4 linked regions of the Homo sapiens genome follow. The protein of the gene in region 3 purifies or fractionates together with the protein of the main gene of each other region. This does not show direct contact. Each region holds a gene or a part of one and is shown on either strand. Other genes may lie near its edges.

The links.
Region 1: the proteins of ZMYM6 (region 3) and PPWD1 purify together in Homo sapiens (affinity purification with mass spectrometry; one large-scale study listed by BioGRID and IntAct). This does not show direct contact.
Region 2: the proteins of ZMYM6 (region 3) and BLK purify together in Homo sapiens (affinity purification with mass spectrometry; one large-scale study listed by BioGRID and IntAct). This does not show direct contact.
Region 4: the proteins of ZMYM6 (region 3) and PLS1 purify together in Homo sapiens (affinity purification with mass spectrometry; one large-scale study listed by BioGRID and IntAct). This does not show direct contact.

Annotation. Positions count from the first base shown.
Region 1 is NC_000005.10:65,582,904-65,589,006, reverse strand, and holds the end of PPWD1 (peptidylprolyl isomerase domain and WD repeat-containing protein 1), read right to left. Parts: intron 5,970-6,103; coding exon 5,788-5,969; intron 3,994-5,787; coding exon 3,912-3,993; intron 3,009-3,911; coding exon 2,826-3,008; intron 1,755-2,825; coding exon 1,611-1,754; 3' UTR 1,458-1,610; downstream 1-1,457. UniProt on the Homo sapiens protein: PPIase that catalyzes the cis-trans isomerization of proline imidic peptide bonds in oligopeptides and may therefore assist protein folding. May be involved in pre-mRNA splicing.
Region 2 is NC_000008.11:11,543,784-11,549,886, forward strand, and holds part of BLK (tyrosine-protein kinase Blk), read left to right. Parts: intron 1-2,268; coding exon 2,269-2,320; intron 2,321-4,248; coding exon 4,249-4,342; intron 4,343-5,240; coding exon 5,241-5,339; intron 5,340-6,103. UniProt on the Homo sapiens protein: Non-receptor tyrosine kinase involved in B-lymphocyte development, differentiation and signaling. B-cell receptor (BCR) signaling requires a tight regulation of several protein tyrosine kinases and phosphatases, and associated coreceptors.
Region 3 is NC_000001.11:35,024,148-35,030,250, forward strand, and holds part of ZMYM6 (zinc finger MYM-type protein 6), read right to left. Parts: intron 1-6,103. UniProt on the Homo sapiens protein: Plays a role in the regulation of cell morphology and cytoskeletal organization.
Region 4 is NC_000003.12:142,671,576-142,677,678, reverse strand, and holds part of PLS1 (plastin-1), read right to left. Parts: intron 1,523-6,103; coding exon 1,390-1,522; intron 1-1,389. UniProt on the Homo sapiens protein: Actin-bundling protein. In the inner ear, it is required for stereocilia formation. Mediates liquid packing of actin filaments that is necessary for stereocilia to grow to their proper dimensions.

The sequences.
Region 1 (6,103 bases), on a different chromosome or scaffold from region 3:
AGGTCTGCCGATTAAGTTTTTGATATTAATCGAAAAATTCATTAGTCAAATATGGTTTTCACTCAAAGCAAAATAATTGTATTTGTTGGGGAATGAGGCATCATCACCACTTGGTGGCAATATTACCAAAAATTTAGATTAAATTTTTAGGAATGAATAAAGCTAGGTAGGTAAGACTAAACAACTAAAATTAGAAACAGTAAATGTCACATTGAAAAGTCATTTTCATGTCTAACTTTAAGTTCTACTTTTAAAAAGGAGCATACATTACAGGAGCACAATCTGGCATAATCTCCTATCTATCTCACAACTTTGTAGCACGAAATAAATAAAGAATCCTGCTGATCAATAGAAGGAAAAGTTTAAGCCGATTTAAAACTTAAGAATATAAATTCCCTACACAGGTCTGTTGAGAATGTTCTTCCTGTAAGTTTCTGAAAGAAAGAGTCTTTCTTTCTGGAAACGAAGCAGTGAGTCTTAATAGTTATGAAGTTAGTTATAAGTGTAAGTGAAGAAGATCAATATAAGAATTTGTGCTCATATTGTTTTACTGCTCCAATTTCTACTAATCTCTCCATTGTTAGATACCAAAATTTTTATGTATACTTCTTAATGGTATATTTTCTAAAGATATACTATAACTTGAGGACAGAAAAAATTGTTTACCTATGTTAGAAAAATAATCTGAAAATCAACCTGCATATAATAAACTAAGGACTCAGGTATTCACTTATTCTGAATCTTTCATTTGAAAGAATATTTCATAATTATTAAGGAATATAACACTTTGACCAAAGTAACTTCCTGTTTATTGAGGCTTTACTCACCACTACTTACTAAACAGTTATCAAAAGACTAAAATATTTGGCATTGAAACCTTGTAAAACAAAGGAAATGACATATAATATCATATCCTAGTATTTTTTTCTTATAGGAGGGATCTGCACTCTTCTAAACATAAGGGCGGAATATCTGGCAGGTATTCAAAATTAAAGCACAGTTGTGTACCACTGTCATTATTTAATAGAGTTGTCATCGCACGGGATACCTTCTAAGACCTCCAGTGGATGCCTGAAACTTCAGATGATACTAAACCCCATATATATTGTGTTTTCATATATATATATCTATGATAAAGTTTAATTTATAAATTAGGCACAGTAAGAGATTAACAACAATAAAATAGAACAACTATAGCAGTATACTGTAATAAAAGTTAGTGAATGTGGTCTTGCTGTCTGAAAATATCTCACTGTATTGTACTCACCTATTTTTGGATCATGGTTGACAGTAGAAAGAAAACCATGGGAAAGGGGGTGGAGGAGAGTACTGTAATTATTTAATATTTAATTTGAGGCTGATTAGAAATTACCTATAATGAGTGCTATTTGCCTGAGTTTAGTCCATTTCAATTTATCACCTCCCAGGATTAGAAATATTGCGAGAAAAGTCAAAGGTAATTTTTAAAAAATAGCCTTTAATAAAAAATACAAAAATACTGTATCTTTGAAACATGATCTGTATATTCAGCAAGTCCTAAGCTTCCTAATGTAAAATAATCTGTTTAATATTGTATTTTTATTTGCAAGTACATTAAAACAAATCTTATTTTACTTGACAGTAATATTTATGATGCTGACATCCTCATAGGGCTTATCTGTTTTGGGATTGACTTTGACGTTGGAGATCCTCTGTACAACTTCCATTCCTTTAGTCACTCGTCCAAATACTGTATGCTTATTATCAAGCCAAGGCTGTGTTGGAGGACAAATGGAAAATCTTGGTAAACCCCAATTTCTTTAAATTATATCCTCTGGTTGAGCAAATTAAAGAGAATTTAAGTTTACGCTCCCCTTTAGCATATATTTAAAAAGAAGTACAATAATTTCTCAGCAATAAAAATGTAGCAGCTTTTAAAAGTTATTTCCAGTGTGTTAAAAAAAATAGAAGCATAGTATAATGTTTAATTAAATATCTGCATCTTTCAGACCAAAGGGAACTGGAAGATCTTCCCTAAAGGTAAGTTACTTCACATGGCTTACAGAATTGTGGCTAAGGCTTTAAAAGGTCTCTGGAGGACTCTTACCTGAACAGTTTATTCAGAGGCAGTTTGAAATAGTTTATGCAGCACATACTTTGGCATTAGACAGGTGGGAGTTCAAATGCTAGCTTGGCTACTTGACCTTTTGGCAAGTTAATCATGTCTCACTGTTTCTTCATCTATTATTGAAAACTGGGGATACTGATAGTAGAAGTACTGTGAATACTACATAAAACTATGTGCCTGGCAGATGGTAGTTACATTTTTCCCTTCTTCATCACTTAGTGCTTAATTCCAAAACAAAAACTAGGTAATTTTTATAATTTTGTGTTATGGCATAGCAATAGAGCTAGGTTACCTTATACTGTATTTCATCAAATCTAATGTATTCTGATTTCAGAGATACTAAAATGTGGGGGAAATTGTCTCAAAATTGTGAATTCATATACTCTAATCTTTGTATTCTAAAGACAAGGAAATAGGCTCACAGAAGTGAAATAATTTATTTTAGGTTACATCATCAGTAGAGGCAGAGTTGAGATTGAAACTCAAGTATCTTGAATCGTAGTCCATTGTATTTCTTACTACAGTGGCAGTATTGTTTTACCAATTCTAAACTGATTAGTCACATAATTTTATATTCTTGATCATTTTCATATTTGTATTCTGCTAGATGATATAAATAATGCAGAAAATACAGAATAATGCAGCTCTTCTACTGAGTTCACTCTCTTACATCATAACCTATCAATCTGTAGTTTATAAACAATGATACTGTACTTACCGTTGGTACTACCGTTATGAAAAACTGGGATCCATTAGTATTTGATCCCGCGTTAGCCATGCTGAGTGTGTATGGCCTGTCATGTCGTAATGTTGAATGAAATTCATCTTCAAATTCTCCTCCCCATATGCTTTCTCCTCCCATACCAGTACCTGTTGGATCTCCAGTCTGAATCATAAAGCCCTTAACAGAAAGTACACAAAAACATTACATTGTCCTTTTCGATATATGTACGCTTTGAAGTTTTATTTCTGCCAAGAGTGCTTTGTATTCAGTGTAATATTAACTGTCACTATAAAGTGATTTGATTAAACCCTTAACACTTAAATTTGGATGATGTATTTCCATTGCCCAACCACCACCTTGATTGAAACATAAATGCAAAGGTCGTCTTCTCATTTATAGACATGTTCTGTCTTTCTCAATAACCCAAATAAAGCCAGTTAATACTATCAATTTTAGGATCTGTATGTTATGTTTTATATAATTGCCCTCCTCTTCTCCCTCTCCCTTTCCCCAAATACTCTGGATTTCCTGGAAAGCCTTTTCGCTAATTCCTTTAGGACCCTGAGATCTGACTTTTCATCCTGCCGTTTCTGACCTGCCAGAAACCAAGCACTGTATCAGTGCCCCATCCACTTTATGGAAAGCTGCTCAACAAAATCCAGGGGCTGAGTTCTCTCTCCTCCTCTGGTATATTACAGGTTCTCACAGATCAGATGGCACTGTGGCTCCTCTATGATTGAAAAATCATATCTTCTAGATCTAGACCCTATCTAGCCACGACAAAGAGGTTACCTAGGTTACTGATGTAATCTCAGCATGACCCTTTATTCATTATCTTACCCTTTACTTTAGCTGCTGACAAAATATTGCTTCAGTGTTTCTAATCATGCCACTATTCCTGTTGATTCTAGATGTTGATATTTATGACCATCCACTCCTCCTTTGGCTTCCATAGTGTATTTTTCCTGTTCCTTTCCACTAAACTGATTAAGTGTGAGAGAAGAAGATTCCTTGCGCTTAAATCTCTTGCTATGTAATAATACAGTATTTCTTATATGACATGAAATTTATGTAACTTACCTTAATTATACGGTGAAATGTATGCCCATTATAATAACCATTTCTGCTGTGAACACAGAAGTTTTCCACTGTCTTAGGGCACCTATTAAGACATATGTTACAAATATGAAACCTATTCAGAGCATCTTAAAACAGTTTTCTTTGCAGTTCTGCTTCCTAATGATGTTTCCTTTCCATGTCTTCTGAATGTTTCAGAAGGACAGTTGTTTTTTTTTTTCATAATCTCTAATCTCAGGACAAGCACGGAGGGTCATGTAAGTAGTATATTCTTATTGTTCAACTTAGTTATCTTTAGAACATGACTGCTTAACTAATATTTGAGTTTGACAGTATTAAAATTTCAAGGTCATTTAGCAGTCAAAAAAAATACAGCCATAGCACCTTAAAAATATGTTTTTTTCTTAAGAGACAAGGTCTCACTATATTGCCTAGGCTGATCTTGACTTTCTGGACTCAAGACATCCTCCTGCCTCAGCCTCCTAAAGTGCTGAGATTACAGGCCTGAGCCACTGTACCTGGCCCAATATCTTAAGTTAGTTTACTCCATATAGTATTATAGGTCTGCATGTAGTAGTATAGGTTAAGTTCCTGGGAAAGGTCATTTTCTTACAAAAGCATTGTTATGCTACAGCGACATACTCTTGGCCAAAACCTTAATCATAGAAATGACATCTAAATTTATTCAACTTTAAATGACAATCACACTCAGAGTACGAAGCTTTCTCAATAATATTAACTGAAAATTATGCAATTATTTCATACGGTTCATTACCATGTAATACTTCTAAGAGCTGGAAATGGACGAACCAAGAGAATCTTGTACCCAAGTACATCAGCAAACAAGGCCGAAGAGTACATGGGTTTTGAGCACTTAAAGTGAGACTGTCCAAGAGTCTAGAGCTGCCTAGTTATTTGTTGAGTACCAAGATATGGTATAAAACGTTCATATTCAAAATGTTAATAAATAAGAACTTTTAAGTAAAAGTGTTGTAAAAGATGTCATTTTTTGGGTCAAGAATGGCCAGAGATACTCTACTGTATTTGACATTGTATGTTAATTTTACAGTCTTTTAAACTGTCCAGAAAACTGTTCACCTTTTTTTCAATTGAAGCCCTTACGGTTTTGTTGTAATTTGTTTTTGTAGAAACAGGGTCTCACTCTGTTGCCCAGGTTGGAGTGCAGTGGTTTGACCATAGCTAACTGCAGCCTCAAACTCCTGAGCTCAAGACATCTTTTGACCTCAGCCTCTAGCATAGCCAGGAATACAGGTGCGTGCCACCATGCCCAGCTAATAAAAAAAAATTTTTTTTAAGAGATAGAGTCTTGCCGTGTTGCTCGGGCTAGTCTCAAACTGCTGGCCTCCACTGATCTTCCTGTCTTAACCTCCTGAATAGCTGGGATTACAAGTGCGTGCCACTGCACCCAGCTTGTAGTTCACTTTTAAAACACAGAGCTACTGAAACTATAAAGAGATAGTAGGTATCTAGCAACTGTTGGTAAGGAAACATAATTATCTTTCTCTTAAGGATTTGCTTTGAGAGGAAAGCAAAGCAATCCACAAAACCTAGAGTTCAGATGTGCTGTTAACAGTAACAGTGATACACATTTGTGTATCACTTTACAGTTTACACTCAGCACTTTCATAGCCAATACATTTTGTCCTCGTAATGAACCTATAAAGTATATATGCATAAAAATTTCCCATTTTCTACCGTAACACTTATCAGAAAGCTCAGGAATAGATGTTTTTTATCAAACGTTTCTTCAAAATTCCTTAAGTCAAAGTAACGGGAATTTTAAGTTGCATGGTTTCTTCAGATATACACATTTACATTCTTAATTACATAAGCCAATAAAAACAGTTGTTATACATACTCAACAGGAAAAAGTTTGGTGTGAATGTCTCCCATGCTGGTGTGGATAATGGCACTGTCCGAAACTCGTTTAGGTCCTTCAGCTTGAGTAGCTGCCATGACTTCTTCTTTAGAAGGTTTCTCATTAAAAACATCTCGATCAGAATCTGCACTTTTCGTATCTTCTGGTTCTCGTTTGGTAAACTCAAGGAGGAAAGTAAAAAGTGAGTCAACGAATTAAAGTTTTCATCTGGTAAAAATTTTATGAACAATAGAATTTCTAATGAAGTACTTAAGAAATGTAAGAATTCACATCAGAATCCTTATTTCAGGAATCA
Region 2 (6,103 bases), on a different chromosome or scaffold from region 3:
CTTAAGTTTTCCTGGAATCCCATGGGCATTTTAAATGAGGAAAACTTTCCAAAGGAAAAAAAAAGTGAAATTTCAAGTGAAAAGGTCTTATTGCTGGGGAATGCATTTTCCTAGTCATGCAGTTTGATTTGTTTATAAAACACTTAGCTCCTTTTGATGGCTACAGCATGTCTGAAGATGCATTTTTTTTTTTTTTTGAGACAGAGTCTCGCTCTGCTGCCCAGGCTGGAGTGCAGTGGTGGGACCTTGGCTCACTGCAACCTCTGCCTCCTGGATTCAAGTGATTCTCGTACCTCAGCCTTCTGAGTAGCTGGAATCACAGGCACACATGCCACCACACCTGGCTAATTTTTACATTTTTAGTAGAGACAGAGTTTCACCATGTTGGCTAGATTGGTCTTGAACTCCTGACCTCAGGTGATCCACCTGCCTTGGCCTCCCAAAGTGGTGGGATTACAGGTTTGAGCATCCGTGCCGGGCCTGAAGATACATTTTTAGATGATTCTTTGTGCTCTCTCCACTCCCTGACCAGTGACCCCCTTTTGGTTTGGGGCAGTTGGGAGCCTTGCCGCGACCCCCTCTCCTGTGCTGTCCACATGTCCACGTGGTCATCTCTTTATCCTAACAGGGACCTGATGGGGAGACGGGGATTACTAATCCCACTTCCTAGATGAACCCAGGCATCTTACCTATCTGTGTCCCAGTTTAGCGCCAGTCTCAGCGCACAACCACAAGATGTTTATTGAATAAATAATTGATCAAATGGGGAAACTTGGACTTAGACTGATTGAGTAATTTCCCCAAAATTATATGATAATAAGTAGTAGCACCTGGAATTTTTTTCACTTAAAAGAGTCACATAATATGTATATGGAAAAAATTATAATTACTCATTATTCCACTATGTAGAGTCACCAGAGTTGCCTCGAGACCCTTCTTCCGTGTGTTCATTTCATGTGTTCCTATTTTTAAGAGAAACATACATGCACATCATTTTGCAAAATGCTACTTCAAAATTGTGTTCAATAAATATGGAATTAAGAAAAGAATATTTGTAACATATGTCAGGTTGAAAGAATACACCAAAACGCACACTTGTATAGCCACCTCCCAACTTCAGACAAGAAAGAGACTCGTTCCTTTGAATCTCCCTCCTCCCTCCCCTGTTTGTACCCTTCACCCCAGGCCCCAATACCCAGAATCTGTTTATCATTCCTTAGCTTTGCTTTTTAATATTATCACATATGTATTACCCCTAAACGATATTTAGTTTCATTATTCATGTTGTAAACTTTAAATCAACTACATCAAACAGCGCATATGCTTCTGAGACTGGGGTTGTGGCTCCGTGTTACGCATGTGAAACATATCGACGTTGATGCACGTGGCTGTTGCTCATTAATTTTATTGCCTGAGTATACTGTAATTTGTTTATTCTTCTGTCATGAGGGTTAGTTCCACGTTTTAAAATTGTTTATGTATCGGTCGGGCATGATGGCTCACGCCTGTAATCCCAGCACTTTGGGAGGCCGAGGTGGGAGGATCACTTGAGGCCAGGAGTTCAAGATCAGCCTGGCCAACATGGCGAAAACCTGTATCTACTAAAAATACAAAAATTAGCTGGGCGTGATGGCGGGCACCTGTAATCTCAGCTACTTGGGAGGCTGAGGCACGAGAATTGCTTGAACTGAGGAGGCGGAGGTTGCAGTGATCCGAGATTACGCCACTGCACTCCAGCCTGGGCAACAGAGCGAGACTCCATCTCAAAAAAAAATTGTTTATGTATTATGATTTTTGCTAGGAGCCCTCTTGTACACATTCCCTTGTACACTCTTGTACACATACACAGAAGTTTCTCTACAGGATATATACCTACAAATATGTTTGTCGAGTTTTGGGGAAATATGCTTTTTAAATATTTTTTCTTGTCAACAAATACCCGTTTGCAGTTTGATCTTGTAATGGTAGAGCCAGGATGTTAAGCCCAAGTGGTTGGGCTTTCCCTCATTGTCCACAGCTGTCTCATATCCACATTGGGGCATCCCCCAGCGCGGTCAGGGCAAAGGCAGCAGAGGGCGGGGGTCTGTCTGAGGGTAGTGCTGGTCCCTGGGTACAGAATGTCCCTGAGCAGCCCCCACAGGCAGCTGCCTCTCCTCCTTCAGTAGGTCCCTGGAGATACCCTGGCTGCCCGGCTCAGCAGTCTCAACCCCCAGGCCCCACCCACGCAGCAGGGACTGAAATAACTCAAGTGTGTGTTTTCTACCCAAGGTTGTCTTCAACCACCTTACTCCTCCACCGCCCGATGAACACCTGGATGAAGGTAAGAAGGGTGGTTTGGGAAGCTGAGGCTCCACAGCCCTCTCCCCTAGGTGGCAGCTTTGTGGAGTTGGAAAAAGGTTGAGTCAGGAGCAGCTTGAGGGCTGGAGAAGAGAAAACGGGGAAGCTGAGAGAGGCCCCGGCTCTGTGCCTCTTGGGGCGTCTCTTCAGGAACCAAGAACAAGTTTCTTCAGTATGCCTGAGCCTGGGTGGGACTTTTAAAACATGAAAGACTTTACAAACTGTAAACAAGAACAAAAACAAGAGTCCCAGGGAAGACACACAGCATCATCAAACCCAAGTTTTAAAATATGCTAACTCTCAAACGCAAAGGGCTGGGCCAGTGGCTCCAGGCCCTTGCCTCCAGCCCCTGTCCGCTCTATGTGGAGGGCACCTTCTTGTTTCCCGCTCCCAGTCACTTCGAGAGTCCCGCTGCTGACCACCTAACCACCCACGCCCCTACCTGGTCCCCAGACTCCACTTGGTTTTTTTTGAGACAGAGTCTCGCTCTTGTCACCCAGGCTGCAGTGCAGTGACCCAACCTCAGCTCACTGCAACCTCCACCTCCCGGGTTCAAGAGATTCTCCTGCCTCAGCCTCCCAAGTAGCTGGGATTACAGGTGCACACAACCACACCGGGCTAATTTTTATGTTTTTACTAGTGAGGGGGTTTCACCATGTTGGCCAGATTGGTCTTAAACTCCTGACCTCAGGTGATCTGCCCGCCTCAGCCTCTCAAAGTGCTGGGATTACAGGCGTGAGCCACTGTGCGTGGCCCCTAGACTCCACTTCTGCTCTGGTGGGCTGGCCTGCTGGGTACTGTAGGGAATGAGCTCAGCCTTTCTGGGCCAGAGGCTCCACCCCTGGGGACTCCCAAGAGGGTGGCCTCCTTCAAAGTGACTTCCCGCAGCCTCCTCATCATCCATGTCCACACAGCATGGGGAAGGGATGCCTCGGCCAGCCGGGCCCCACCCATTAACCTGCTCATATGATGTGTACTGGGCATTCAGCACACAGAGCCCAGCTCTGTCCCAGGAATGGCGAAGGGGTGACAACAGGTAGATGCGACCCCTTCCCTGGAAAAGCTCAGAATCTGTCACACTTGTGAGCAGAACCTGAATCTTAAAACTTCAGGGAACCACTGTCACCCATTCTGACCCTCGCTTTCCTGCTGAGAAGAGGTGACCAGCCCGAGGTCACAACACTCAGCTCAGTGACAGAGCGGAGCCACCCCACCCGGGGAAGCTAAGTGCTCTCCAGGTGACCTTCATCAGGTGGGTCCTGTGGCTCCCAGAGCTGTGCAGAGAGCCTGCGTCACAGCAGGGCTCACTTGAAGATGGTGCTCCAAGCTCCTGAGCCCTCTTCCTGCCTTCCATCCAGGGCCCGCCAGCAAGGTGGGGGGCCCGGCAGGGTCACTGGCAGCCATAGACAGTGTGGCTGGGGCTCTGGGCACAGACAGTGGAGAGGCCAGGGCTCCAGCTGCCACGTGGCAAGACCACCCCTACTGGGGATAGAGGCAGGCGGGGCAGAGGAGGAAAAGGATAAGAGGAGGCTTATGGGCCTCCGAGGGCAGGTGTAGAATAAGAAGATGAGGGCTCCCAGCACTATGTCCGAATGTGGGCCTGAGGCCACCAGCAGCCCGGCAGTGGCTGCCTCCCTGTGGCTGACCTCTGGCCATCAGCTTCCTCACACACGCCTTGTCCAGGTCATAGGGCTTCTTAGTGGGTCCACAACGGAGGACAGGATGGGCTCTGGGGGGCAGCCCATCCCTGGTGGGGTCACAGGGCTGGGGGTGGGGGCCTGTGCTGGGTGAGAACATCATTTCCATCGTGGGCAAGCAGAAGCCTGTCCTCCTTGGTAGCCAGGCTCACCCCAGCCCCACCTTCCCGCTTGTGGGCCTGAGTGGTGGTCATCTCTCCCTTGTTCATTTTAGACAAGCATTTCGTGGTGGCTCTGTATGACTACACCGCTATGAATGATCGGGACCTGCAGATGCTGAAGGGGGAGAAGCTACAGGTCCTGAAGGGGTGAGGTTCCAGGACACCATCCCCTGTCCCTGCAGGACCCCCCTCCCCCACATCTCTCCTTTCTCCACCCACCACATCCTCCATGGCTGACCCTGGAAGTCTTCTCCATCGCCCTGCCCCCAGCCCTGGCCCCAGCATTTTCTTGAACTTGGCCCTTTTGTCTTCCTCTCCAAAATCTTTCCGGTGAAGTAATTTCCATTCACAACCTCCTGCTCATCCTTCAAAGTCCACGTTCCATGCCACCGCCTCCATGCAGCCCTCCTGACTCTTTTGGGCATGTGGACCTTGTCCTTTATGCAGGCTGGTCTGGCTGTTCCGTGAAAGCCTTGCATTTAAGCCAGTTGTGTCCATATTTGTCTCCTTTTCAAGACAGGAGCCCACACTGATGACACACACCAATCCCGCTTTAGCTCATTTCCCATGTCCTTCTCAGAAACTCCTTCTAGGTCAGCTCTCTCTCAGTGGCCAGGCTTGTCCTGTGGAGCTCTGAGGGTCTGATTTGGTTCTTGAAGTTCTCCAAAGGCCCTGAGCCAAGCTCACGAAGGTCCTGACTGCTGATTCTATACAGTCCACGCCAACCGTGTTTTTCTCAAGCCTGTCCCCAGTCCCTCACCAAGCTCTGAACACGTCCCATTCATCAAGAGGAAGGCTGCTGGCTGGATCCTTGTGCCCTCTTGGCTGGTCAGGCTGTGTAGATAAGCTCTTCCCCCTAGAACTTGCCCGGATAGCCACTGTACCACTGAGCAGTGGGCACAAGCCCCTTCCTGCCTGCCGTACTCTCTACCCCTGCGGATTCTCTGCCCTCCAGGGAGAGATGACTTTGAGGAGGCCTGAGAGCTGCCCAGTGACGGGCCTACAGGGGCCATGATCTCATCTCTGTTTCCCCTGCTCCCATTAGAACTGGAGACTGGTGGCTGGCCAGGTCACTCGTCACAGGAAGAGAAGGCTATGTGCCCAGTAACTTTGTGGCCCGAGTGGAGAGCCTGGAAATGGAAAGGTAGGTGGGCACGGGAACCCCCCTCGAGCCAAGATGCAGTCACTGTTTCTGCTCCCTGGGCTGTTAGGCAGGGCAGGGCCAGAGTGGGACTGACCAGGGAGCCTGCAGGCACTAGCAAAGAGGGGACAGGAAATGAGCTCTGCTGGGAAAGGCCTCTCTGCTGGCTCCAGACGACATTCAGACTGCTGTGTGACACTGAGCAAGCCGCTCTTCCCAGCTAAACAAGAGCGGTCCTTCTCCTGGCTCCCCTGGATGGAACCGGCCCCAGTGTCTGATGGCCTCGAAGGCTACCAGGGAGGCACTATGACCAGCATCCCCTCCCCTACAGCCTCCATGGGCAGGACTCAGGGCTCAGCCCTCGGGGGCTCCCAGGAGGGTGGCGTTGTTCAGAACTGATTAATACTCCCAATCTTCTAATCCCCCAGCCCCCATCTTCTCCCATGTCCCCATGGCACTGGGAATTTCGGACTCGGCCAGCCAGAGCCCCCACGAATCTGCTCACAGGGACTAGCTCTGCCTGAGGACTGAGGCCCAGCAACGAGTCTTCTCTGGACACTGTGGGCCCCGCTTCTTTCCCTGGAACAGTGTGGGGAACCGTGGGGCTGTCCTGCACAGAACAACCCCATACCGAAGGGGACATACTGGGGTCCCTGCTCAGAGAGTCTCGGCAGTTTGCCTAATTCAGATCTCAGACTGCAAGGAGGAGGCACGTGCCTGTGATACGCAGCTGTGCTTTGGAGAGAGTGATCAGGGGCATTTTTCCA
Region 3 (6,103 bases):
CTTACCTACAAATTGCTCAGCAAACTGTCCTGCTATCTTACAGGAAAAGGAAACCTTCTTTTTAGCTATAGCTGAAATAGTGCTATTTTAGAATAATTATGTTCCAAGTATTGCAAGCAATACACTTATAGTAAAAATCACCATTGTTTATTTGATAGTCAAATTTAACCTGGCATCCTGTATTTTATCTGGAAGCCCTACATCTCCAAGTAGATAACTTTCTAATCTCAAATCCCAGATTTTTATGTGCAAATGCCTCCTTGTGCAGTTTACCACTTGAATGTCCCACAAGCCCTTTAAACACAACAGACCTCAAACTGCACTTAGTACTTCCTCCAAAATCCTGTTCTAACCCCTCAGTAAATGGTATCACCATAAACCCCAAAACCTGTAAGTATCCTTGGACTCCTCTTTGACCTTCACACCCATAAACAATCTCTAAATTTGATCAATCCTACCTAACCATTTTTAAATCTATTATCTTTTCCCACTTTATTGTTGATACTCAACTATTAAACACACCACATTCTCTCACCCCTCCATGACGTGGCTATTTTCTCTGCTATATTTTCTCTGTCTGAAACTCTTAGTCAATTTTTATAATACAATTGCTACCTGCTATGTGAAACCTTCCTCTCCTTCCCATATAGATTTAGGGCTCCTTCCCCTATGCTCCCAATGCACCTCACACAATTTTAAAGCACTTACCTAAGACTGTGATTTTGTATTTTTTTTTTTTCAGATGGAATATTGCTCTGTTGCCCAGGCTGGAGTGCAGTGGAGCAATCTCTGTTCACTGCAGCCTCCGCCTCCTGGGTTCAAGTGATTCTCCTGCCTCAGCCTCCCCAGTAGCTGAGATCACAGGCATGTGCCACGAAGCCTGGCTAATTTTTTTGTATTTTTAGTAGAGTTGTGGTTTCACCGTGTTGGCCAGGCTGGTCTTGAACTCCTGACCTCAAGTGAGCCACCTACCTCGGCCTCCCAAAGTGCTGGGATTACAGGTATGAGCCACCACTCATGGCCTTGATTTTGTATTTGCACAAAAGGTGGCACAGGCCAGGCACGGTGGCTCACGCCTGTAACCCCAGCACTTTGGGAGGCCGAGGCAGGTAGAGTTCGAGACCAGCCGGCCAACATGGTGAAACCCCGTCTCTATTAAAAATACAAAAATTAGCCAGGTGTGGTGGTGGGCACCTGTAATCCCAGCTACTCGGCAGGCTGAGGCAGGAGAACTGCGTGAACCCAGGAGGTGGAGGTTGCAGTGAACCGAGATGGCGCCACTGCACTTCAGCCTGGGCTACAAAGCAAGACTCCATCCCAAAAAAAAAAAAAAAAAAAAAAGAAAGAAAAAAAAAAGGTGGCACAAAGCAGCAGAAAGCATACAAGTTTGAAGACAATTAGGTTTAAATGAGAATGCATAAGATATGCTTAGCATAGCTTCTCACAAGGCACAGTCACTCAACAAATATTACTTCTCTCATTCTCATAACTTTTCTCTCCATTACACTATCAATTACCTTGAGAGCAGAAGTCCTATCTTTTCATCTCTGTAGCCTTTCTGAAAACAAAGTAACTAATACAGTTTACCATCCTGGTTAAGGGTTTGGGCTCTTGAATCAGACTGCTGGAGTCCAAATCCTGACTCAACCATTTATTAATTATGTGACTTTTAACGGGTTACTATCTAGGACTCAGCTTCCTCATGGGTAAAGTGGGAAGAGAAACAGTACTTAACTGAGGGTTGTGAGCATCGAATGGATTAAGGTATGTAAACTGCTCACAACAATGTTCAAGTATTATGGATTACAGCAGGCAGGAATAAAAACTCACTGAATGAATATGAATACTCAACATATATGAATATAAGGACTAAACTGCAACTTTTTTTTTTTAGATGGAGTCTCCCTTTGTCGTCCAGATTGGAGTGCAGTGGCGCAATCTCAGTTCACTGCAACCTCCGCCTCCCAGGTTCAAGTGATTCTCATGCCTCAGCCTCCTGAGTAGCTGGGATGACAGGCGCCCACCACCGCGCCCGGCTAATTGTTGTATTTTTAGTAGAGACAGGGTTTCACCAGGTTGGCCAGGGTGGTCTTGAACTCCTGACCTCAAGGGATCTGCCCACCTCAGCCTCCCAAACTGCTGGGGTTACAGGCACAAGCCACCGCGCCTGGCCTTCAACTATAATTTTAATATCCAGAACAAACTCTTAGAAAATCAGAAAATAAAAAACATTTTTATTTATCTCTTATTTTCCAATATTCAAAGGAGATTCATCAATGCAACATAGAAAATAATACACAATTTGTTCAATTGGCTTTTCAATCATAGTCTATACCCTCAATCATGAAAAAATATAGCCTATTCACCTGAAAACATTAATATAAACCAAAGACAACTGAGCAGTTCCTACCCTCTTAAATATACAATCTAAGCTGCTAGGGAGATTTCCATTATCACAATTTTTATATTCAGAAAGAACATTGAATTAACTTAAAGCACATTATTTGTTAAGTGTATAGGCAAGGTATAATGAAAGAAATATTGCATCTGGAGTAACAACAAACTGTTGTATCCCAGTTTTACCATGAGACACTGGTGAAGTCACTTATTCCTTCAGGTTCAGCTTCCTTATATGTGAAAGAGGCTCTTTTATTCCAATTATTGAACATGTACTTTGTGCCAAATCCTGTGCTAGGAATTGGAGATTCAGGTCAATAAGACCAATTTCTGACTTCAGAGAGACTGCAGTCTAGTGTGTCAATGAAAGATGAGGAGGAGATGGCCAGATTAGTATAATCAGTATGAAGACAAAATTCATTGACCTGTAGATACCATAATAAAAGTGATTGCACTATACAATTAAAAAAAAGAGAGAGAGAACAGCTCATTCTACTTGTGAGTGAGAAACTTCATCTTAAAAGAGGACAAAATTTTGCCAGCCTACCTAGCTTATTTCTTCTTCCACCGGCACAAGAAATGGCAGGTGCAAAGGCAGGGAAATAAAATGCAACCGAGTTTTAGAAGATAGTTTTGAGTGAACTGCAAATAGCTGGCAGCAGCATAGATTTGAAAAGGTGGAAACAATGAATGATGACACTGGAGAGGGAAACAAAGGCCTAAACATGGATGGTTTGGATGTCACATTGAAAGATCTTTGCTTCATCACACTGGAGGAAACAGGGTCTTTAAAGGGAGAAATATCACTCGATCTATACAGTACAATGGCATCACTGTAGAGTGTTTTGATGGGATATGTGACTGAAGGAAGGAGAATAGGTAGGAAACTATTATAAAAGTCCAAATGAAAAATAATGAAATAGTTCAGGCATGATGGCTCATGCCTGTAATCCCAGCACTTTGGGAGGCCAAGGCAGGAGGATTGCTTGAGGTCAGGAGTTCAGGACCAGCCTGGGCAACATAAGGAGACCCCGTCTCTACAAAAACTAGCTGGGTGTGGTGGAGCATGTTTGTGGTCAGCTACCTGGGAGGCTGAGATGGGAGGATCGTTTAGAGTGCAGTGGCCATACTCACACCACTGCACTCCAGTATGGGCAACAAAGTGAGACCCTGTCTCAAAAAAAGGAAACAAAAAAAAGAGAGAGAGAAATAATGAAATATAGAAGAACATCATGGGTCAGATACAAAAAATATTTAAAAGCTAAAAACCACAAAACCTGGCAAAGAAATGGTTACTTTAGGCAGAGAAAGAGTAAGAATTTACCATCTGGAGGGAAAACAAGTAGCATGGATGCCACCATCCCCCACTCCACATCTAACAGACACTACCTCAGAACTCTTCTTAGCCCAGCACTCTAGCAAGGCATAGAGTTCATGAGTGAAACAAAACCTACCTGACATCCCTGTCTTCTTATGATACTGCCTGTGGCTGGGCATGGTGGCTTACAACCATAATCCCAGCACTTTGAGAAGCCGAGGTGGGCAGAGCACTTGAGGTCAGGAGTTTTGAGACCAATCTGGCCAACATGGCGAAACCCAGTCTCTAACAAAAATATAAAAAATTAGCCAGGCGTGGTGGCGCACACCTGTAATCCCAGCTACTCAGGAGGCTGAGGCAGGAGAATCGCTTGAACCTGGGAGGCGGAGGTTGCAGTGAGCCAAGATCGCGCCACTGCACTCCAGCCTGGGAGTGACAGAGCAAGACTCCATCTCAAAAAAAAAAAAGGAATGATACTGCCTGTGAGATGGTGTGAAAAATAAAATTGTTTTTTATTATTTTAAAATATAATTGCTTTGCTGATACAATAAAGTCAATAACTTTGAGTGTAAAGCGAAAGAACTGTCCCAGAAGAAAAATTCCTTGCCAAAACAACTAACTCATCTCTCCCATTGATTTTATTTTATTTTTTTTTGAGACGGAGTCTCACTCTGTCACCCAGGCTAGAGTGCAGTGGCGCAATCTTGGCTCACTGCAAGCTCCGCCTCCTGGGTTCACGCCATTCTCCTGCCTCAGCCTCCCAAGTAGCTGGGACTACAGGCGCCCACCACCACGCCCAGCTAATTTTTTGTATTTTTTGTAGAGACGGGGTTTCACCGTGTTAGCCAGGATGGTCTCGATCTCCTGACCTCGTGATCTGCCTGCCTTGGCCTCCCAAAGTGCTAGGATTACAGACGTGAGCCACTGTGCCCAGCCTCCACATTGATTTCCGTGCTCTCCATTCTGGGTCCCTATGGGGTAGCCAGAATGATCTTTCCAAACACAAATCTGTTTCATCTTACTTTCTCACTTAAAACCCTACAATTGGCCAGGTGTGGTGGCTCACGCCTGTAATCCTAGCACTTTGGGAGGCTGAGGTGGGTGGATCACCTGAGGTCAGGAGTTTGAAACCAGCCTAGCCAACATGGTGAAACCCCGTCTCTACTAAAAATACAAAAAATTAGCCAGGCGTGGTGGCAGGCGCCTATAATCCCAGCTACTGGGGAGGCTGAGGCAGGAGAATCACTTGAACCCGGGATGTGAAAGTTGCAGTGAGCCACCAAGATTACAACATTGCAGCAAAACTCCATCTCAAAACAAAAACAAAAAACCCTATAATGGCTATCTACTGCTCTTAGGATAAAAACCAAAATTTATAACAAGGTCTGCTACGTCCTACATAATCCAGCCTTAAACTATATATACAGCCTTATCATAGAGAAGCAGAATAGCACAAGTTCTGGAGTCTGACCACCTGGATTTGAATCCAGTCTTTGTCATTTACTACTAACTGTGATCTGTGGTAAACTATTTGGCTTTTTTGAGCTTTGGTTTCCTCATCTGTAAAATGGGGATAATAATATGGTGGTAAGAATGGTGCCTGACACACTCTTAAGCATATATAAATATTAAGTTAATAATGTCACATATGATTATGATATAATATATACTACATACTGATATACTAATGCCAGCTATTTTTATTGTTGTTGTTTTAATCATTATCATCATCACCATTTTCATACCTTTTCTGTTCCAGGCTCACTGTTCCTGCAGGTCTTAAAAAGAACCATGCATCTTTCCAACTCAGGGCTTTCCTATTCACAGTTCCCTCTGTCTGTAATACTCTTCTCCATACCCTTTGCCTAATCAATTCATTCTTCATAATTCAGCTTACACATCCTTCCCTTAGAGAGGCCTTCCCTAGCCATCCCCAGGCAGACCACAACCAAAACTAGGTCAGATTCCCCATTTTAGGCTTTTCTTCCAGAGTACTTGTCATAGTTTGTAATTATATATATTACTTGACCAATACTTTTGTAATCTCTGCCTCCTCTACTAACATATAAGCTCTACAAGGGAAGGGACTAAGCTGACTTTGCTCAATCCTGGATCCCCAGAGACTAGCACAGACCACAAATTCTTAACAGAATAAAGGAAAGTACTACCAGATACAAGAGAATTTTTTTTAAGTGACAAGTATGGAAAAATGGTAAATATATTACTTTCCTTCCACACACAAAAAAATCATGTAGTTATAGCTTTCATTCAAAGAGCAAAAAACCAGCCAGGAATGGTGGCTCATGCCTGTAATCCCAGAACTTTGGGAGGCCAAGGTGGGTGGATTGCTTGAGCTCAGGAGTTTGAGACCAGCCTGGGAAACATGGC
Region 4 (6,103 bases), on a different chromosome or scaffold from region 3:
TTTTTTTTAACCATCCTGAATTTTCTTTTTTTTTTAAGAGGGAGTCTACCTCTGTCACCCAGGCTGGAATGCAGTGGTGTGATCTCAGCTCACTGCAACCTCCACCTCCTGGGTTCAAGTGATACTCCTGCCTCAGCCTCCCGAGTAGCTGGGATTACAGGTGTGTGCCACCTCTCAGCTAATTTTTGTATTTTTAGTAGAGATGGGGTTTCACCATGTTGGCCCGGCTGGTCTCAAACTCCTGACCTCAAGTGATCCTCCTGCCTCAGCCTCTCAAAGTGCTGAGATTACAGGCATGAGCCACCACGCCCAGTCATCACCCTGAATTTTCTTTATGTTAGTTTTGTCTTTATTTCACTTAATGATCATCAGTATTCCGCAGCCTAAAACAAAGAAATTCTCCAAGAAGCCAAGTTTCATAAAGTAGTATCAACACTGTTAAAATTACTGTTGTTGCAGAAAGATACGAAGCCAGAGATTTCATCTAAGACCAATAATTTAGACATTTTCAGAGAAATTAATATAAATTTTGTCTCTATATTTTAGAATTTTACCTTTTAAAACAAGAATAGGAAAATACCCATTTGGTTCATAATAGGAATTTCTCTGAGAGTCAAAGAAAGATAAGAATTGTAGGTGGAGGTCAAGGTATATTTTATATTTAATGTCATAAAATCTAATATCCTGTACTTATGGGTAAGGTTTTGTTTTCCTTTTTAAGTAAAAACATAAAAAAAAAGACTGAAGGAAATGTGTTAGAATATTAATAAGTCATTTATGGGTGGTAAGGATATTTTTGATGGTTATTTTCTACTTTGTAAATCTTTTGTACTTTTTATAAACTAAAGAAAAGACCTCTGCTTTGTCCAAAGAAGTATGCTGGGACTGTGGTACACACAACAATGACAAAGACATTCCCTCAGAGAGTTTACAACATAGTGAGAAAAAATAGAATGCAAAGAGCCAAGGATAACACAAGGCTGAATCAAAACATTATTTTCATTTAGGTACAAATAAGGAATATCTTCCCTTTACATTTCCTCATGTCCCATTCCAGTCAATAATCAATACTCGCTTACTGGAAAAAGAAAAGAGAAACCCTGCGAATATTTAAAACTGCATCAGACAAATAACTCAAAAGATTCCTGGCAATTATTATAGTAATACACGTAAAAGGCAACAGAAAAACAAGGGATTGTATTTGAAGGAAAATTTTGGAAATTTTCCAATAGATATACAGTAGTTCATTTTCTATGCAATATAAATTCCTCATGACCTAAGTAGCTACTGACTCCAAAAGACAATGGACAGCTGAATTGGAGTTTTCATGGAATGCTCATCAATGTAATCAGCAAGAACGCAGCTTCCTTAACCAGAAGTTCAACTCACCAAAGAAGGATGCCATCTGCAAGTGACTTGAAAAGACTATCATCATTGGGATTCATGGGTATAAGATGCTTACAGTCAGGGTCATTCTCCAGGGCTTTGTTTATCCAGTTAACAAAAGCCACTTTTTCTTCCTCTGAAAGGAGAAAACCTTGGTAGGCAAATCTCATTTCACAAACTTTATTGCACTATAAAAACATACATAGCTATTGCACTACAAAAACATACTTGTTAATTTCTGCTCAAAGATAATAATTGACCATTATTACAAATCTACTAAAACACAAAAGGGTTCAAGAAAAGAAGAAAGGTGGCTGGGTGTGGTGGCTCACGCCTGTAATCCCAGCACTTCCCAAAGCACTTCCAAGGCGGGCTGATCACTTGAGGTCAGGAGTTCAAGACCAGCCTGAGCAACATGGAGAAACCCCCGTCTCTATTGAAAATACAAAAATTAGCCAGGCATAATGGCACATGCCCATAGTCCCAGCTACTCGAGAGGCTGAGGCTTCAGGATTGCTTGAACCGGGGGGTGGAGGTTGCAGTGAGTGGAGATCCTGCCACTGCACTTTAGCCTAAGCCACAAAGAGAGACCCTTTCAAAAAAAAAAACGGGGAGCACGGTGGCTCACGCCTGTAATCCCAGCACTTTGGGAGGCTGAGACGGGCAGATCACGAGGTCAAGAGAGCAAGACCATCCTGGCCAACATGTTAAAACCTCATCTCTACTAAATAAACAAAAATAAATTAGCTGGGCATGGTGGCGTGGGCCTGTAATCCCAGCTACTTGGGAGGCTGAGGCAGGAGAATGACATGAACCCAGGAGGCAGAGCTTGCAGTGAACCGAGATCGCGCCACTGCACTCCAGCCTGGTGACAGAGCAAGGCTCTGTCTCAAAAACAAAAACAAAAAACAAACAAAAAAACAAACAAAAAACTGATCTATTAGGAGAGATGAAGGTATATATCTTAAATGAGCACAATATATATTTGGTTTGATTCAAAAATATTTCCAAATATGTATTGCTTCTGAAAGCTAATGAGTCAGAAGCAGACCATCGGAGGTCAAATATGTATATGTTAATTAAATAAGGAAAAAAATACAAGAAACAAATACCATGGCAATAAATCCCATCCTCCCCAAAAGGTTTAGAGAGCTGTGATTTTTAGCTTACAACAGAAATACTGAATTCAGTCAAGAGTTATTCAAATGAATAAAACAGCTCAATTTCAATGGAATTTAACTATTAAAAAATTGACACAAATTGGCTGGGTGCGGTGGCTCATGCCTGTAATCCCTGCACTTTGGGAGGCTGAGGTGGGCAGATCACCTGAGGTCAGGAGTTTGAGACCAGCCTGGCCAACATGGCAAAACCCCATCTCTACTAAAAAATACAAAAATTAGCCAGGTGTGGTGGCAGGCACCTGTAATCCCAGCTACTCTGGAGGCTGAGGCAGGGAGAATTGCTTGAATCTGGGAGACGGAGGTTGCAGTGAGCCGAGATCACGCCACTGCACTCCAGCCTGGGCAACAGAGCAAGACTCTTGTCTCAAAAAAACAAAAAACGAAGAAAAAATTGACACAAATCTAGATACCAGCACTATCTTTGGCCATCTTCATCCAACAACTTCTCAACACATGGCTTCTAGTATGGGTACATTGATCTTAAGTAGAAAATTTTGTTGGGTTATGCAGTGGGGAAAATAGGAAGGAACTTAAAGTAAAAACATTGTACAACTTTATTATTATTCTGTAGATATAAAAACCATTTAAGATTATAAATCCTTAAAGTAAATAATCCCCATTTCCATCAGAGGGTAGCACATAATGATTTGGCCTTCTCCATTGTTGCCCCAGTTCCTAGAATTAAGTAATTTTCCCAAGGGAATATTTTGCAGGTACCCCCAAAATTTAATCCACCACACATACATACACACACAAGTCAACAAAAACACAAATATGTACTAATATTTCCTCTTTGTACATATCATAATCTGCCTTATCTTCTCGCCTCCTCATACACACCTCCTTAGAAGGATTTGGAGTCTAGGAATTCAGAGATCACTAAAATACTGTATCTGCCATTGAGGAATTTTTTAGTGTAATTGTAAAACAAATATACAAAGAAATGTGATATAAGGGAAATACACACACCACCAGAAATATATATGCAATGTTTGCAGAATTTAAAAAAAGAAGCAATCACTTTTAGTTAGGGTGATCAAGAAAAGGCTTCATAGAGGAGGTACTATTTGAAATATAGTTTTTCAATAGGTGAATATAGGCAAGGAAAGAAAGGATGTTTCAGGTATAGGAACCAGGAATGAGATACCACATCACAACCACTAGGATGGCTGTAATTTTTTAAATGGACAAAAACAAGTGTTGGTGAGAATTGAAGAAACTGGAGCCCTCATACATTGCTGGTGGGAATGTAAGATGGTGCAGCCACTTTGGACCTTGAGAGCTTGTTTGGAAGTTCTAGCAGGGGAGTGCAGCTACTCGTATACCCTTGACCAAAGACCAGTCCTCTTCTATTGGGATGGTTGTCCTCTTCAACCGAGCACGCAGCTTCGGGAAGGACTCACATGGAGCACTGAGGGAGGAAGGGGACACCTGCCTAGCCAGCCAGATCAGCCAAATCAACCCTGGCAATCAATGGGGTGACAGATGTCGCAGCCAGATCGCCCTCACAAGTGCAGCCACTTTGGAAAACAATTTGGCAGTTCTTTAAAAATGATAAACATAGAGTTAACAAAAATTCAAGCAATTCTACTCCTAAGTATATGCCTACGAGAATTCAAAGTATATGTCCACACACAAATGCATTCATGAGTGTTCATATAGCATTATTTATAATAGCCAAACACTAGAAACAACCCAAATGTCCATCACCTGATGAAAGGATAAACAAAATGTGGTATTGCCCATAGAATGGAATATTCAGCAATAAAAAGGAATGAAGGGGCCAGGTACCATGGCTCACACCTGTAATCCCAAGGCAGGCAGATCGCTCGAACCCAGGAGTTCAAGATCAACCTGGGTGACATAGCAAAACCCCATCTCTACAAAAGATAGAAAAATTAGCTGGGCATGGTGGTACACATTTGGGAGGCATGGTTATGCACTTGGGAGGCTGAGGTGGGAGGATCCCTTGAACTCTGGAGGTCGAGGCTGCAGTCAGAAAAAAAGGAATGAAGTATGATATATGTGACAACATGGATAAGCCTTGAAAATATTACACCAGTGAAGAAGCCTGTCAAATGAAAGGCCACTACAGTATGATACCATTTATATGAAACTTCCAGAATAGGCAAATTTGTAGAAATAGAAAGCAGTTTAATGGTTGCAGAGCCTTCGGGAAGAGGGAAATGGGGAGTGACTGATAATGAATATAGTGTTCTTCTTTGGTGTAATGAAAGTGTTCTGAAATTAAATAGTGATGACAATTGCACAACTATGAATACACTAAAAACTACTGAACTGTATACTTTAAAAATGTATTCCATGGTATGTCAATTATATCTCAATAAAGCTGCTATTTTTTATAAAAGCCATTAAATATTCCATATATTTTTCTAGAGAATAGTTATATAGGTGTATTCATAGGTTAAAAGAAATCATCAAGCCATATACTTAAGAATAGTACACTTCAGCCTGGTGTGGTGGCTCATGCCTGTAATCCCAGCACTTTGGGAGGCCAAGGCGGGTGGATCATGAGGTCAGGAGATCGAGACCATCCTGGCTAACACGGTGAAACCCTGACTCTACTAAAAATACAAAAACATTAGCTGGGCGTGTTGGCGGGCACCTGTAGTCCCAGCTACTCAGGAGGCTGAGGCAAGAGAATGACGTGAACCTGGGAAGTGGAGCTTGCAGTGAGCCGAGATCGCACCACTGCACTCCAGCCTGGACGACAGAGCGAGACGCCATCTCAAAAAAAAAAAAAAAAAAAAAGTACACTTCATGCACTTTACTACAAGTATCTTATACCTCAAAAAATAAGTAAACAAAAATTTATGGTGACAAATATCAGAAAAGAGGTTACCTCTAGGGAAGAATAGTTACTATCAGGGGAATGAGGGAGTCTTCAGGTGATGAAAAGATTCCATGTCTTGTTCTGGTTGGCAGCTACATGAATGTATATACACATGGAAAAATTCATTGAGCCATATACTTAAGATTATAGCACTTTGCTGAATGTGTATTATACCTTAATAATTTTTTTTTGTCTTTAAAAAGAAGCCACTTCAGTAGAATTGACAGGCAGAAACTGGGTTAAGGGGTGAATACCTTTCAAAAAGTGAAGGTAACAGTTATGGACCTTTGCCTTTATGGCTGCTTCCCTAGTGGGAAAAAGTTAGGAAAAACATATAATAGATGAGAGAAATTTGAGTGTATCGCTAGAGGAAAATCCAATTAGGAAGGGACAGAATCAAGAGGATAATTAACAGATTCAGATCTGAAATGAAGAAAGAGGGGAAAAGGTTACAGGTAATTTTGTCAAAAGGCCAAAAAGCATAGTTCTAGTTATGTTCATATAAATAAAAAGAACTTGGCCAAAGGTTCTTAGACATCTTAGATAACTTAACACGGGGAAGACACCTCATCTTAAAAGTTGATATGCTTCTGCATTTCCCACTGGGCAATGGTCCAGTGGTTTAATCAGATCAAGCAAATCAGGTGCTATGCTCTCTAGTCACTTGGTTACTAGATAAAAG